Linked DNA regions of Homo sapiens. The protein of the gene in region 2 purifies or fractionates together with the protein of the main gene of each other region. This does not show direct contact. Each region holds a gene or a part of one and is shown on either strand. Other genes may lie near its edges.

Region 1 (3,500 bases), on a different chromosome or scaffold from region 2:
GAAAAGCAGAGCTTACTTGTTGATGTTTGCAAGATAAATATCGGCTACATGACCCCCACTGGGACAGCTGGCCCCCGCTCTGGCTGTCACCTTTTCTTCAGGTGGCTCAGAAATGACCTCAATCTCAGACTTGGGGCTGGACCTCTCCACGACACCGTCCTCGCTGGGGGAGAAGGGGCAGGCAGGCAGGGAGGAGGGAAAACAACAACAACACAAAAAGCAGCGTTAAATCGGCAAGATGGCCCCCCGACATACACGCGACCCCACACAGCTCTGAGGCAGCAGCGACACCTGGCTGGACTAGTTCTGTGAGCAGAGGCAAGGAAACCTAAGGGCCTTTGAAGGGTCGTTTAAATAAAAATAAATAATCCGCTGAGTTCTGCGGGCTCCTCAGCTCCTCAGGAAAGCGTGGCTAGGGGACACCTGGATTCGAGGCATCTGCCTTCTACCCCATGCTGCTTCCTGGGGAGGCCGTGCTGGGGCGGCCTCCTGGAGAAGGAGGCGGCAAGTCCAGGTTGTGGTTTATCGGCTGAGGTCCTGAGCACTGCCGGGTAAGGACAGTCAACTGTGTGGTGGCTCTGGAGACGGCGGCGTCGTGGCAGGACACCGCCACACACTGTCGTAGCGCCTCTAGCCCCGCTCAGAGCATCCAAGCCGGTCCCAGGTCTCTCCACTGCTCTCCTGGCCCCTCTGGCTACTGATGACAAAGAAAGCCCCTTCTCCCCCACAATTCATCTTCTCTTGATCCTGTGGTGAAGTCATAATGCTAAATTTGGGAGGGTCCTGTCCACGCACAGATTGCCACCAGGTTTGCGATGCTATCAACAGAGGGAGGATTTCCCTGCAGAACGAGCCGGGAAGAGGCTGGGAGGGTGCAGACTCACTCAGGATATCAACCTTTAAAAAATAATATTAAGGGAAGGACTAAAAACACTGACAGCATCGTATCCAAGGGAGGGGAGCTGGGGACAGAGACAGGGCAAACGGACAGGGGGCAGGCTTGGGTGGGCCCACGGGACAACTGCTTCAAAGTGTGAGAATCAACCAACAGCCTATCAGATGAGATCTCTCTGGGACCAGTTCAGGTTTCCTTTGTTCCTTGACATCCTTTTCCCTCCTTCCCCCATCTTACCCTATATCAACCTCATCTCGGTTAAATGAACTAGGTCACTTCCATAAGGCTGCTTAAGCCGGATTTCTCCTAGAAAACCAGTCATTTTAATTTGCAAGTGGAAGAGTGGCTCAACAGGTTGGGGTGAGCATAGTTGTTTAAAAAAAAAAGAGAGTAACAAAAATGTTTTCCCAGCCTGATCTTTCGAGAAAAGAAATATAGGTGGTCAAATAAAAACCCCTTGTTATCACTCATCAGGTATAAATATGGATGAGTGCTGGCTGGCTGGCAGGTTTCTAAAATGACTGGATTAGGGGGTGATTTGCAGGGGGCACAGATAGTGGAGAGATTTAAAAAAATTCTCCACTGAGTGCAGGGAGTGGGGCGGGGGGTGGGGGGGGTGCTCTTCAAGGAACTGTGTGAGCCTCAGGACTGCACTGGACCCCCCAGGGGTTGGCCTCCCTCATAGTCCTATGGCTCCAGAAATGAAGTCTCACTCCCATAGAGCAGCTGGGGACCACCCCCAAAGATGCCATGGGCCCAACGTACGTGTCTTGGACCACGATGTACTGATGGGGGATGAGTCCGTCGATGCCATTGTGCCGGCCTTCCCACCAGTCGTCGGAAGCCCGCTGGTAAAGCAGCAGGGATGCTCCCTTCTTAAAGGATAGCTCTCGGGCTGTCCGGCCCACGTAGTCAAACTTGGCAATGGCCTCGATGGGCTCACATTCTGAGAAGGGTGGAAAAGAAGTAAACACATGTTCTTGGGACCTGCAGACTCAGGAAACTGGGTGGAAAAGCTGAATTAGCTGAACTTACAGTGGTAGGAAATTACTTAGTGGGAAAACGAAGCCATGGATGATCTATAAAGCAAGTAATTCTCACGCAGACTATACCATTATCCTGAAAGCACTGGTATCACCTTTTACCTGCCTTTGCTCACACTGTTCCCTCCACCAGGAATCTTCTTCTCTCTTATCTGCCTGATGAAGCACATCAAAACACAACTCAAGCATCCCATTTTTTTTTTTTTTTTTTTTTTTTGGGATGGAGTCTTACTCTGTCGCTCAGGCTGGAGTGCAGTGGCTCGATCTTGGCTCACTGCAACCTCTGCCTCCCGGGTTTACGCGATTCTCCTGCCTCAGCCTCCCAAGTAGCTGGGACTACAGACGTGTGCCACCACGCCCAGCTAATTTTTTGTATTATTAATAGACGGGGTTTCACCATGTTAGCCAGGATGGTCTTGATCTCCTGACCTCGTGATCTGCCTGCCTCGGCCTCCCAAAGTGCTGGGATTACAGGCGTGAGCCACGCGCCCGACCGCATCCCCTGCTTTCTACAGTAACTTCTTTGGTGTTTCCAAAGATCTTCATGCCTTGACGTCTATCATCAAACTTGCCATACTATATTTTTAAGCATTATTTCTTTTCTAATTATATAATAATTCCAGTAATTGTAGAAAATGTATCATACATTTTTTAGAATACATACATGTATTCTAAATATTTTATGTTATCCATTCCCCCTAGTAAGTAGAATGTGAGCTTTCTGTCTCTCTATAAAGAGAAAATAACTTGCTCAATCAACTTTCCAAGGAGCAAAATATGAAAATATATTTTGTGACCAACCTATGAAAAAAATGCACATGAAAGTAATCTAAAAAAGTAAAAGGGGTCTACGAATGCAATCTATCTTTATTTTTGTGTGGGCTTCTGTCTCCTCATCTGTAACATGGAGATTAATAATCGTGTCTTTTTCATGAAGTTGTTATGAAGAGTCAATGAATTACAATTTGTAAAAGTGCTTAGAACAGTGTCCCGCCCATAGTAAGTGGTATGTGTGCATGACTTATTGTTATCATTATCTTCGTCTGTGCTAGGCTGCAGGTAGAGATCAAAGAGCAAAGAGAAGGCTCCCAGAAAGCTGGAACCTGAGATGAAAGTCGGCTATTCTGGGAAGCAGAGAGAAAGGCTGCTTAAAAATAAGACCATGCCTAGATGGCCCTAGCTGGTGGGTCTGCTCCTGCACAGGAGGGGTTGGAGATTTCACTATAGGAGGCTGGTCAGAGAAGGCCTGTCTAAATATACCCACCTCAGTTAGTTCTCTACAGCCTCGGGTACGTTACTCGACCTCCCTGACCTGCATTTTCTCAACTGTAAAATAGCGGCCATATCTTTTTCACTACAGATTAAGAGATAACATATATAAAGCCTCTAGCAGAGCTGGCCACGAGGTAGGCTCTAACCCACTACTCATTTTCCTAGTTCACCTACTCCCCTCCTCGAATGTAGCAAATGATCATATGGATCCTTATGACATCAGGATCTAAATAAGCAGTCCTATTTTTTTTTTTTCTCCTTTGAAAGCTGGCCTAGAATTGCAGAATTCC
Region 2 (3,500 bases):
ACAAAACAGAAATTCCTATTTTCATGAAGCCTACATTCTTGTCACAGAAGAGGGACAGTAACAAAATCTATGTTATGTCCGAAGGTGATATGTGCTATGGGGAAATATAAAACAGAAAGGGGAATAGGACGGGTTGCAATTACATGTGCTGTGACCAGGAATGACTTCATTAAGAAGGTTGAGGCTGGGCGCAGTGGCTCATGCCTGTAATCCCAGCACTTTAGGAGGCTGAGGCGGGTGGATCACGAGGTCAGGAGTTCCAGACCATCCTGGCTAACGCGGTGAAACCCCGTCTCTACTAAAAATACAAAAAAATTAGCAGGGCATGGTGGCGGGCGCCTGTATTCTCAGCTACTTGGGAGGCTGAGGCAGGAGAATCACTTGAACCCGGGAGGCGGAGGTTGCAGTGAGCTGAGACTGCGCACTGCACTGCAGCCTGGGCAACAGTGCGAGACTCTGTCTCAAAAAAAAAAGAAAGAAACACTTTGGCTGCTATGTTTAGAAGTGATTATAGGCGGCAAAGGTTAAAGCAGGGAGACCAGTTAGGAAGCCATTGTAATAATCCAGGTGGGAAACAAGTGTGGTCTGGACCCAAGCAATGGTGGCAAAGCTAGTGAGAAGTGGCTAGATTCTGCATATATTTTGAAGAGGCAACAGGATTTGCTGATGGACTAGATGTAGGCTATGAAAGAAAGAGGGGAGGTGTCAGGATAATGCTGAAGTTTTTTTATTTGAGCAACTGGCAGGATGGAGCAGCCATGAACTGGGTGGGGGAAGGACTGCATGTGGAGTGATGGTTGGCGGAGGCAGGGAGGGGAGTGGGGGAGAGCAGGCATGCTAAGTTGTTGTGGGCATGTTATGTTTGAGATACCTATTTGACATCCAAGTGAAGGTGCTGAGTAGGTAGCTGCATATATGAGTTGGGAGAGGGCTGGGTTGGAGATATAAATTTGGGATTTATCAGTGTATAAATAGTATTGAAAGCCGTGGGAGAGGATGACATCACTAAGTGAATGAGTGTAGACACGAAAGAGCAGCGGTCCAAAGACTGAGCCCTAGGGCACTTCACCTCCTATTGAGAAGACAGAAGGAACCAGCGAACGGGGACCAAGAAATCAGCTAATGAAACGGAAGTAAACTAAGAGAGCAGAGTGTCCCAGCATGGGTTCCAAGGAGGTGGGAGAGATCACTGCTCTCAAATGGTGTATATTTATTTAACTATCTTATCACAGGCATAGATTCATGTGATTACTACCACAATTAAAATACAGAACAGTTCCATCACTAGGACTCCTTGTGCTACCCTTTTATAGCCACATGTACCCTTTCCTATCCCCTTGTATTATTAATACAAAATTTCTGAATTTGGATTGCTAATCTCAGTAAAGCATTTTTTATTTTTGTTTTAGGATTTTTGCTTGTATGCTCAGGAGTGAGATTAGTCTATGAATTTCATTTCTTGTACAGTCCTCATCAGATTTGGTATCAAGGTTATGTGAGCCTTATTCAATGGATTGGAAAACAGAACTCTTTTTTCTTAAGGGTTTACTTAAGATAAAGTTGTTCTTAGTTTTGATCAAAGTTGCCACAGGTTTGACTGTTAGTCTTTAGAACCAGCTTCTAGTATTTTTGGTCTACTCTTTTGTATCTTTGTCTTAATTTCATTATTATTTCTTTCTCTTTTTTTAGACAAAGTCTCACTCCATTGCCCAGGCTGAAATGCAGTGGCGCAATCATAGCTCACTGCAGCCTTGAACTCCTGGGCTCAAGTGATCCTGCTGCCTTGGCCTCCCAAACTGCTTGGATTACCAGCATGACCCGGTACTGTGCCTGGCCTGTAGAGTTCTATATATATATATATATATATATATATATATATATATATATATATATATATATATATCTCTATTAAGCTTATTCATTGGGCTGAGCATGGTAGCTCATGCCTATAATCCCAGCACTTTGGGAGGCCAAGGCCAGGAGGATCACTTGAACCCAGGAGTTCGAGACTGTTTTGGGCAATATAGCAAGACCCTATCTCTACAAAAAATTAAAAAATTATCCAGACATGATGGCATGGGCCTATAGTCCCAACTATTTGGGAGGGTGAGGTGAGAGGATCACTTGAGCCTAGGAGTTTGAGGCTGCAGTGAGCTATGATTGCATCACTGCATTCTAGCCTGGGTGACAGAGCGAGACCCTGTCTCAAAAAACAAAAAATAAAAACCTCTTTTTTTTTCTTTTTTGAGACAGAGTCTTGCCCTGTCACCCAGGCTGGAGTGCAGTGGTGCGATCTCAGCTCACTGCAGCCTCCACCTCCCAGCTTCAAGCAATTCTCCTGCCTCAGCCTCCTGAGTAACTGGGATTACAGGCTCCCACCACCAGGCCCAGCTAATTTTTGTATTTTAGTAGAGGCGGGGTTTCACCTTATTGGCCAGGTTGGTCTTAAACTCCTGACCTTGGGTGATCCACCTGCCTCAGCCTCCCAAAGTGCTGGGATTACAGGTATGAGCCACCGTGTCCAGCCACAACCACACTTTTAAAAGGATGCTTGGGCTATTTTTCCAGCATTTCTCTACTTTATTCTGAGAGGGTTTTTGGTTTGTCTACTCTCTGTCATGTGTTTGGAAAGGGAAGTTTTTCTTTTCTTTGCTCTCCTTTTCTGGGAATGGCTCAACAAACTTGTTGAGAATGACTAGAGTCTTTTAGGCAGGAATCAGAATCTGATTCATCTTGGGTGAGGATCTGTTTTGATCCAGGATCACACAGTACAACCATGGTTTCAGGGGCTCACCCTGTGGGTAAGGCATTAAAGTGGGATAAACAGGAGAATAATCGTGGGCTGGATGCAGTTGCTCATGACTGTAATCCCAGCACTTTGGAAGACTGAGGCAGGAGGATCGCTTGAGCCCAGGAGTTCAAAGCTGCAGTGAGCTATGATTGTGCCACTGCATTTCAGCCTGGGCATCAGAGCAAGACTGTGTCTCTTAAAGAAAAGAAAAGAAAAGAAAAAAAAAAGATAAAGAAGAGCAATAGTGAATGAATGTTATTGAACACATAATGTAGCAGGCTTTGTTCTACTTACTTTATATATATTAACACATTTAACCCTCACTATAGCCTTATGAGGTAGGTACTATTATTATCCTCATTTTACAGATTAGAAAATAGAGGCATAGGGAAGATAAGGAATATGTTCTAAGTTCCACAGCTAATGAGCGGAGCAGTTAAGATTTAAATCTACACACTACCTCTAAAGCTTAATTTCCTGACCACTATGTTATGTTGCCTCAAGAGCACACTATAAACTTGGAGTCTTACCTTCTGGGTTCACTTGCCATTCACTTAGCTAGTCTCTCCTCCCTGTAAGGCAAACTGTGGGTCTCAGTGTTTTCTGTAAAATAGGAATGATTGCCCTGTGCACTGTACAAAGCAGGTCTTAAGGGACAGGGCATAGGGAAAGCTGCTGGCTGTCCCTGACTTTCTGACATGAAGGAGGC
Region 3 (3,500 bases), on a different chromosome or scaffold from region 2:
AAAGAAACGCAAACAAATATGTATAAGGCATAGCCATTACCATACAATATTGGAGAAAAGACAGTGCGTCTATAAATATTTGCCACATCACACAGAAAGTGATAGGTGCTATACGGATTATAAAAGCTGGGGGCTCCACTCATATGCAGGAGCATACATTATAAACTACCATAGCCTTTTTGGAAAACGTTATAATATGTTTAAAGAATCATCAAACTTCTCACATCCTTTCACCGGGCCATCCTAGTCTTGGGAATTCACTCTAAGAAAGCAGATACGTAAATACACAGGGATATTCCCTACAGTATTAAATAGGCTAGCAAAAACAAAACTGGAAATATTCTAAATCTCCATCACTAGTAATCTATAGTTGCAAATGTCGATACAACATGAATATAACCATTAAAAATTACAATAAATGTATAAAACATGTAAAAAAAATTTCTAATATACTATTAAATGGAAAAACTATAAAATAACACGTAAGACATCAATTATGAAAAACACATATATGGGAATAGAATGAAACACTAACACACAAAACTGACAGTACTTGGAAAAAGTGATGGATTTATGCATGGTAACTCATATATGCTCTATCTCCCATTCCCCCAATTTTTCTGTATTATTATTATTCTAACGTATTTTAAATTTAAATTACTGATATTTTATCTATCCCAGCAGAAACACAAAGGATATATGGACCATGGCATGACTTATAATAGCAAAATACTGAAAATAACCCAAATATCCATCAATAAGAAATAGCTGAAAATACTTCACCTAATAAAGTATTATAAAACTGTAAAGAGATATTTTTTAAAAACCTCTATGTTTTACTAGAGTGATCATCAGGATATTTTACTAAGTAAATAAAACAAGTTATAAAACAGTATAAACAATAAACTATCATTTACGTAAAAAGGATGTAGGAGATAGAAATAGGTGTATAATCTATCAATAAGAAAGAGCTGAAAATCCTTCACCTAATGAAGTATTATAAAACTGTAAAAAGATATTTTTTAAAAACCTCTATGTTTTACTAGAGTGATCATCAGGATATTTTACTAAGAAAATAAAACAAGTTATAAAACAGTGTGAATAATAAACTGTCATTTATGTAAAAAGGATGTAGGAGACAGAAATAGGTGTATAAGCGAATGTGTATGTACGCAGAACATGTAAGTATATAGATACATATATTTTCTTGCATTTTGCCAATAGAAACACTGAAAAGATAAGCCAAACTCTAATAAAATGGTTACCTACAGGCAAAGAGAGGAAATGGGGAGCAGCTAAATTGGAAGTAAATGTCTGAATAGATTTTGCTCTCACTTTGGAATCATGTAAATGTTTTACACATACAAAACTTAAAATTAAATCAAAAGGGCATAGGAGTCAATAAAAATAGTTTTCTCAACAACTGGTCCTGCAACAACTGGATATCCACATGCAAAAGACCTAAATGTGAGAGCTAAGACTACAAAACTCTTAGAAGAAAACTGATGAAGATCTGCATAAACTTGGATTAAGCAATGGTTTCTTAAATATGATGCCAAAAGCACAAATAACAAAAGAAAACATAGATAAGCTAGACTTTGTTAAAATTAAAACCTTTTGGCATCAAAGGACACTATCAAGAAAAAGAAAGACAACCCACAGAGAGGCACAAAATATTGACAAATCCTATATCTGATAAAGGTCTAGTATGCAGATTATACAAAGAACTCATAATAACAATAAAAAGACAAACCGCCCAATTTAAAAATGTGCAAAGGATTTGAATATTTTAATTAATTTCTCCCAAGAAGATACATAAATGGCCAATAAGCAAATGAAAAGACATCCAACATCATTAGTCATTAAGAGAATGCAAATCAGCCGGGCGTAGTGGCTCACGCCTGTAATCCCCGCACTTTGGGAGGCCAAGGCAGGCGGATCACGAGGTCAGGAGATTGAGACCATCCTGGCTAACACGCTGAAACCCCATGTCTACTAAAAATACAAAAAAAAATTAGCAGGGTGGCCGGGCATGGTGGCTCATGCCTGTAATCCAAGCACTTTGGGAGGCGGAGGCGGGTGGATCACCAGAGGTCAGGAGTTCAACACCAGCCTGGCCAACATGGTGAAGCCTCGTCTCTACTAAAAAAAAACAAAAATTAGCCGGGCATGGTGGTGGGCACCTGTAATCCCAGCTACTCGGGAGGCTGAAGCAGGAGAATCACTTGCACCTGGGAGGTGGAGGTTGCAATGAGCCGAGATTGCGCTATTGCACTCCAGCCTGGGCAACAAGAGCGAAACTCTGTCTCACAAAAAAAGAAAATTAGCCAGGCATGGTAGCACCTGCCTGTAGTCCCAGCTACTCAGGAGGCTGAGGCAGAAGAATTGCTTGAATCCGGGAGGCAGAGGTTGCAGTGAGCTGAGATCGTGCCACTGTGCTCCAGTCTGGCAAGAGTGAGACTCTGTCTCAAAAAATATATATAAATTGAAAAAAAAAAATGCAAATCAACACCATACTCAGTTACCACTTCACACACACTAAAAAGGCTATACTTTTAAAAACAGACAATAATAAATCTTGGCAAGGATGTGGAGAAACTGAAACCCTCACCTATTGCTGGTGGGAATGTAAAGTAATGCAGCCACTGTGGAAAAGTTTGCCAGTTCCTCAAAAAGTTAAATATATAGAGTTACCATATGACCTAAGGATATATATCTAGGAGAATTTAAAATATATGTTCACACAAAAATTTGTGCATGGATATTTAAAGCAGCATTATTGATAATAACCACAAAGTATAAATAACCCATATGCCCATCAACTGATGATTTGATAAGACAAAGCCTCACAAATTTTGTTTTTCCTACTTCATCTGAGGTCCTTGGACTCCCACAGATGTTATGAATGAGCTCAGGAGTTAAATGGATTCTCTCAAAATTATATGCAATATGTATGTGCATTTTTGCTCTTCTCTTCTAAGAGGGTTCCTAGCTTTTATAATACTCTCAAATGGGTCTAAAACTCAAAAAAATTAAACAATACTGGTATCACGTAAGCATTACTTTAACAGTTTTAAAAAACACAACTGGTTAAATTTAGCAGAATCCAGTACTCTGAAATCTAACACATGTATCACTACATTGTTTGATTCAAACCAGCTAATTGTTTAATTTGTAGAAGCATAAACAAATATTTTTAAAACTACTCTAATTCATCATCCATTGCTTACTTGAATGGCTAATGTTTCTTGCTGCTGACGGGCTTCTTCTTGGGCCTTCTCTAATGCTGCAGAAAGTTCTTCTTTAGCTTTCATTTCACGGCTCAGAGCAGCTTCCTGTGCCTCACTATCCTTTGCAGCATTGGCTTTGTGAAGATCAGTAAGTTCTCTTAAAAAATTAGATTGAGTTTATAAATGTTGCCAGTGATCAGATAATAGAAAAAGTATTTCTTCAACATCCTACTCTGATAATTCATTCTAAATGGGTTGCATATTTGTTCA
Region 4 (3,245 bases), on a different chromosome or scaffold from region 2:
GGGTTTTGCTATGTTGCTCAGGCTGGTCTCCAACCCCTGACCTCAAGTGACCTCAACCTCCCGAAGTCATTGTTTTTACAGTCTGTGATGTTGGCTTTTCTCATTTATTTGTATCAGGCACTTTCATTGTTAGCTTCTTGTGAATTTAACCATTTTTTTCCGTTTTTCAAAAACTGAAACGCTAACTTCTAATTCTGGCTTTTCAGATAATGATTTTTTTTTCAAAAGTGTTTTAGCATTATACTGTAAGAAGCATCACATTGATGTTTAAGATGGAAAAATTTGCTTTAAAAAAGAACTGAGTAGTTCTGATTTTAAAAGTCAACCCTGGGCCTTTGCCTCTTTGCTGGAAGAACCTGATGGAAGCTTCTGTAGCTCAGAGTCAACACTGATGTGCGCCCTCTCTCCCTCCATCTGCACAGGCCCCAGGGAGTGGCTCAAACCTGTAGACCAGAGAAGGAAGCATCTAGAACTCCTGGGGGCCTTGTCCGCCGCCCACATCCTCTCACGGGGGGCAGCTCCCATGAGGGGTGCAGGCCCCTCACCCCACACAGAGTCTCGGCAGGAACCGGAACCCTTCCTGGTTGCCCCAGAGTGGAGGCCCGGGAGGGGCGGGCGGTGGGTCTGCACCCGATGCTGCAGTTTGCTGATGTATGTGCTTTCATGCTATGTAGATTTATAGTCTATTACCAGGTAATTTTAATTTTTTTTTTTTTTTTTTTTTTGAGACGTAGTCTCACTCTGTCGCCCGGGCTGGAGTGCCGTGGCACAATCTTGGCTTACTGCAACCTCTGCCTCCCAGGTTCAAGTGATTCTTGTGCCTCAGCCTCCCAAGTAGCTGAGATTGCAGGTGCGCATGACCACAGGCGGCTAGTTTTTGTATTTTTAGTAGAGATGGGGTTTTGCCATGTTGGGCAGGCTGGTCTCGAGCTCCTGGCCTCAGGTGATCTGCCCACCTCGGCCTCCCAACATGATGGGATTACAGCCGTGAACCACTGCGCCCGGCCTAATTTTGCTCTTTTATTATAATCAGCTGGAATTCTGCTCTCTAGGGAATAACTCTGTCACCATTTGGAAGCATTTATTTCTGCTCTGTGTGTCATATACGTACCTATCACGCCCCCGTGCACGGAGCTGCCTCTGTCTGACGAGGCCGTCTCAGCTTCAGCACCTGGCGCTTCCTCTAGAGCTCTGCTCCATTCCGAGGTGCTCGACGTAGCAGGGAGGCAGAGCCTGGTTCTGTGTGCTGACCTCACAGGAGCTGTGGCTTCTCCCAGGCACCATCCCCCACCTCCTTTCTCTGCAGCCACGGGCTGGTTCCAGTTTGCTTTTTCATCTTTGCCATTAAAAACAGAACTGGGGCGGGGCGCAGTGGCTCACACCTGTCATCCCAGCACTTTGGGAGGCCGAGGCGGGCAGATCCCCTGAGGTCAGGAGTTCGAGACCAGCCTGACCAACATGGTGAAACCCTGTCTCTACTAAAAATGCAAAACATTAGCCAGGTGTGGTGGCGTGCACCTGTAATCCCAGCTGCTAGGGAGGCTGAGGCAAGAGAATTGCTTGAACCCAGGAGGCAGAGGTCGTGGTGAGCCGAGATTGCGCGTTACACTCCAGCCTGGGAAACAAGAGCGAAACTCTGTCCGAAAAACAACAAAAAAACCCCCACAGAACTTGATCGTAATTTACATATGTAATATTTACATATTTAAATGTTTTTCTGCATGTGTGATATTTTTTGTTTACATCCCTAACACAAAACAACTGGTTTGGAGAGTCTTACCCTGGTTTGTTGTTTGACTTTTTTTTTTTTTTTTTTTGATATGGAGTTGTTCTGTCACCCGGGCTGGAGTGCAGTGGCACCATCTCGGCTCCCTGCAACCTCTGCCTCCCAGGGCTGAGCAGTTCTCCTGCCTCAGCTTCCCGAGTAGCTGGGATTAGAGGTGCCTGCCACCATGCCCAGCTAATTTTTGTATTTTTAGTAGATACGGGGTTTCACCATGTTGGCCAGGCTGGTCTCGAACTCCTGACCTCAGGGGATCCACCCTCCTGGGCCTCCCAAAGTGTTGGGATTACAGGCGTGAGCCACCGTGCCCTGCCTGTTGTTTGCCTTTTGATCCAATTCCTCAAACCAAGAGAGTGTGGGGAAGGCTGTATTGGAGCAGAGCCCACCAGAGTTTGGGCGCACGGGGGCTGGGGAGGGCATTCTCAGCACCTCCAGGTGAGGTTACAGAGGGCTGCACCCTCTGGGGTCTGCCTTGGGGACCCTGCCCAGACCCTGCTCCACCCACTGACCCTGCTGACATGGGTGTGTCCTCCCTTCCAGGACTGGAAGGATCACCAGCACATATGCGGCCAGTCAGCAGCTGTCACCGTCCAGGCAGACGAAGTCCACGTGGCTGAAAGCGTGATGGAGAAGGTGACCGTGTGAGGCTCCATCGGCCGCCCTGGGAGCTGGGGCCCCTCGCACTCCTGTGAGGCTTTTGCAGGTCGAAGGCCCCCCTGAGGACTCTGGGGGGACGTTGAGAAGAGGGGTGTGGGAAGGTAAAGAAACTTGCTGGACAAGTCATTAACACACTTTAAGCGAATGGTGCCCTGGGAAGCGCACTCCCCCTGCCCGGGCCCCCTGCCCGCTCGCGGACAGATTTTTTATCCCTGGGATCATGAGCGTCCGGTCTTGCCCACAGGGCCTGTGCTGCGACGCACATACATACGTGTTGTGTCTGTCAATAAAGTGTAAATAAGGTCTCCCTGCCCCACACGGCCGGTTGCAGTGCCAGCCCTCGGGGGGGGGTTTCCTCCCCTTCCTCCTACTGCGCAGGTGGGAAAACCAAGCCCACCGCACCTCTGGTGCACGGGACAGCGCGGCCAGGCCGGAGCCTCCGGTGCACGGGGCAGCGCGGCCGGGCTGAAGCCCTGGCGTCTGGTGGCTCGTGTAGTCCAGGAGGTCTTCGTTCCTTCTGTTCCACGAGACCCTCGTGGCTGCTGGGAGGTGCAGCAGGCCTACGGCCCTTCCCGCCAGGTTTCGGGGCACATGGTGCCTCCTGTGCCCTGGCTGCTTGAGCGAGCCCGACGGTCCAGCACGGCCTGTTCAGTCCACGTGGACAGCTTGGTGGCCTCGGTCCAGGGATCCACACGCAGAGCCTCATGGCCTCCTGGTCTCCCCCTTGTTTCTCATGGCCCTGGCGCCAGGTGGAGGAGAAAGGGCTGAAGCCTGTGGGGGGCACAAGGGGGCGTGTCCAGCGTGT

What was found. Proteins that work in one complex are often made in the same cells at the same time.
Region 1: the proteins of BSPRY (region 2) and SRGAP2 purify together in Homo sapiens (affinity purification with mass spectrometry; one large-scale study listed by BioGRID and IntAct). This does not show direct contact.
Region 3: the proteins of BSPRY (region 2) and TMF1 purify together in Homo sapiens (affinity purification with mass spectrometry; 2 studies listed by BioGRID and IntAct, with this or other methods). This does not show direct contact.
Region 4: the proteins of BSPRY (region 2) and DEAF1 purify together in Homo sapiens (affinity purification with mass spectrometry; 2 studies listed by BioGRID and IntAct, with this or other methods). This does not show direct contact.

The regions. Positions count from the first base shown.
Region 1 is NC_000001.11:206,451,541-206,455,040, reverse strand, and holds part of SRGAP2 (SLIT-ROBO Rho GTPase-activating protein 2), read right to left. Parts: intron 1,842-3,500; coding exon 1,661-1,841; intron 898-1,660; coding exon of another isoform or gene 885-897; exon of another isoform or gene 164-884; coding exon 17-163; exon of another isoform or gene 1-16. UniProt on the Homo sapiens protein: Postsynaptic RAC1 GTPase activating protein (GAP) that plays a key role in neuronal morphogenesis and migration mainly during development of the cerebral cortex. Regulates excitatory and inhibitory synapse maturation and density in cortical pyramidal neurons.
Region 2 is NC_000009.12:113,356,041-113,359,540, forward strand, and holds part of BSPRY (B box and SPRY domain-containing protein), read left to right. Parts: intron 1-3,500. UniProt on the Homo sapiens protein: May regulate epithelial calcium transport by inhibiting TRPV5 activity.
Region 3 is NC_000003.12:69,035,334-69,038,833, forward strand, and holds part of TMF1 (TATA element modulatory factor), read right to left. Parts: intron 3,388-3,500; coding exon 3,231-3,387; intron 1-3,230. UniProt on the Homo sapiens protein: Potential coactivator of the androgen receptor. Mediates STAT3 degradation. May play critical roles in two RAB6-dependent retrograde transport processes: one from endosomes to the Golgi and the other from the Golgi to the ER.
Region 4 is NC_000011.10:643,733-646,977, reverse strand, and holds the end of DEAF1 (deformed epidermal autoregulatory factor 1 homolog), read left to right. Parts: intron 1-422; coding exon of another isoform or gene 423-449; exon of another isoform or gene 450-646; intron 647-2,323; coding exon 2,324-2,428; 3' UTR 2,429-2,745; downstream 2,746-3,245. UniProt on the Homo sapiens protein: Transcription factor that binds to sequence with multiple copies of 5'-TTC[CG]G-3' present in its own promoter and that of the HNRPA2B1 gene. Down-regulates transcription of these genes.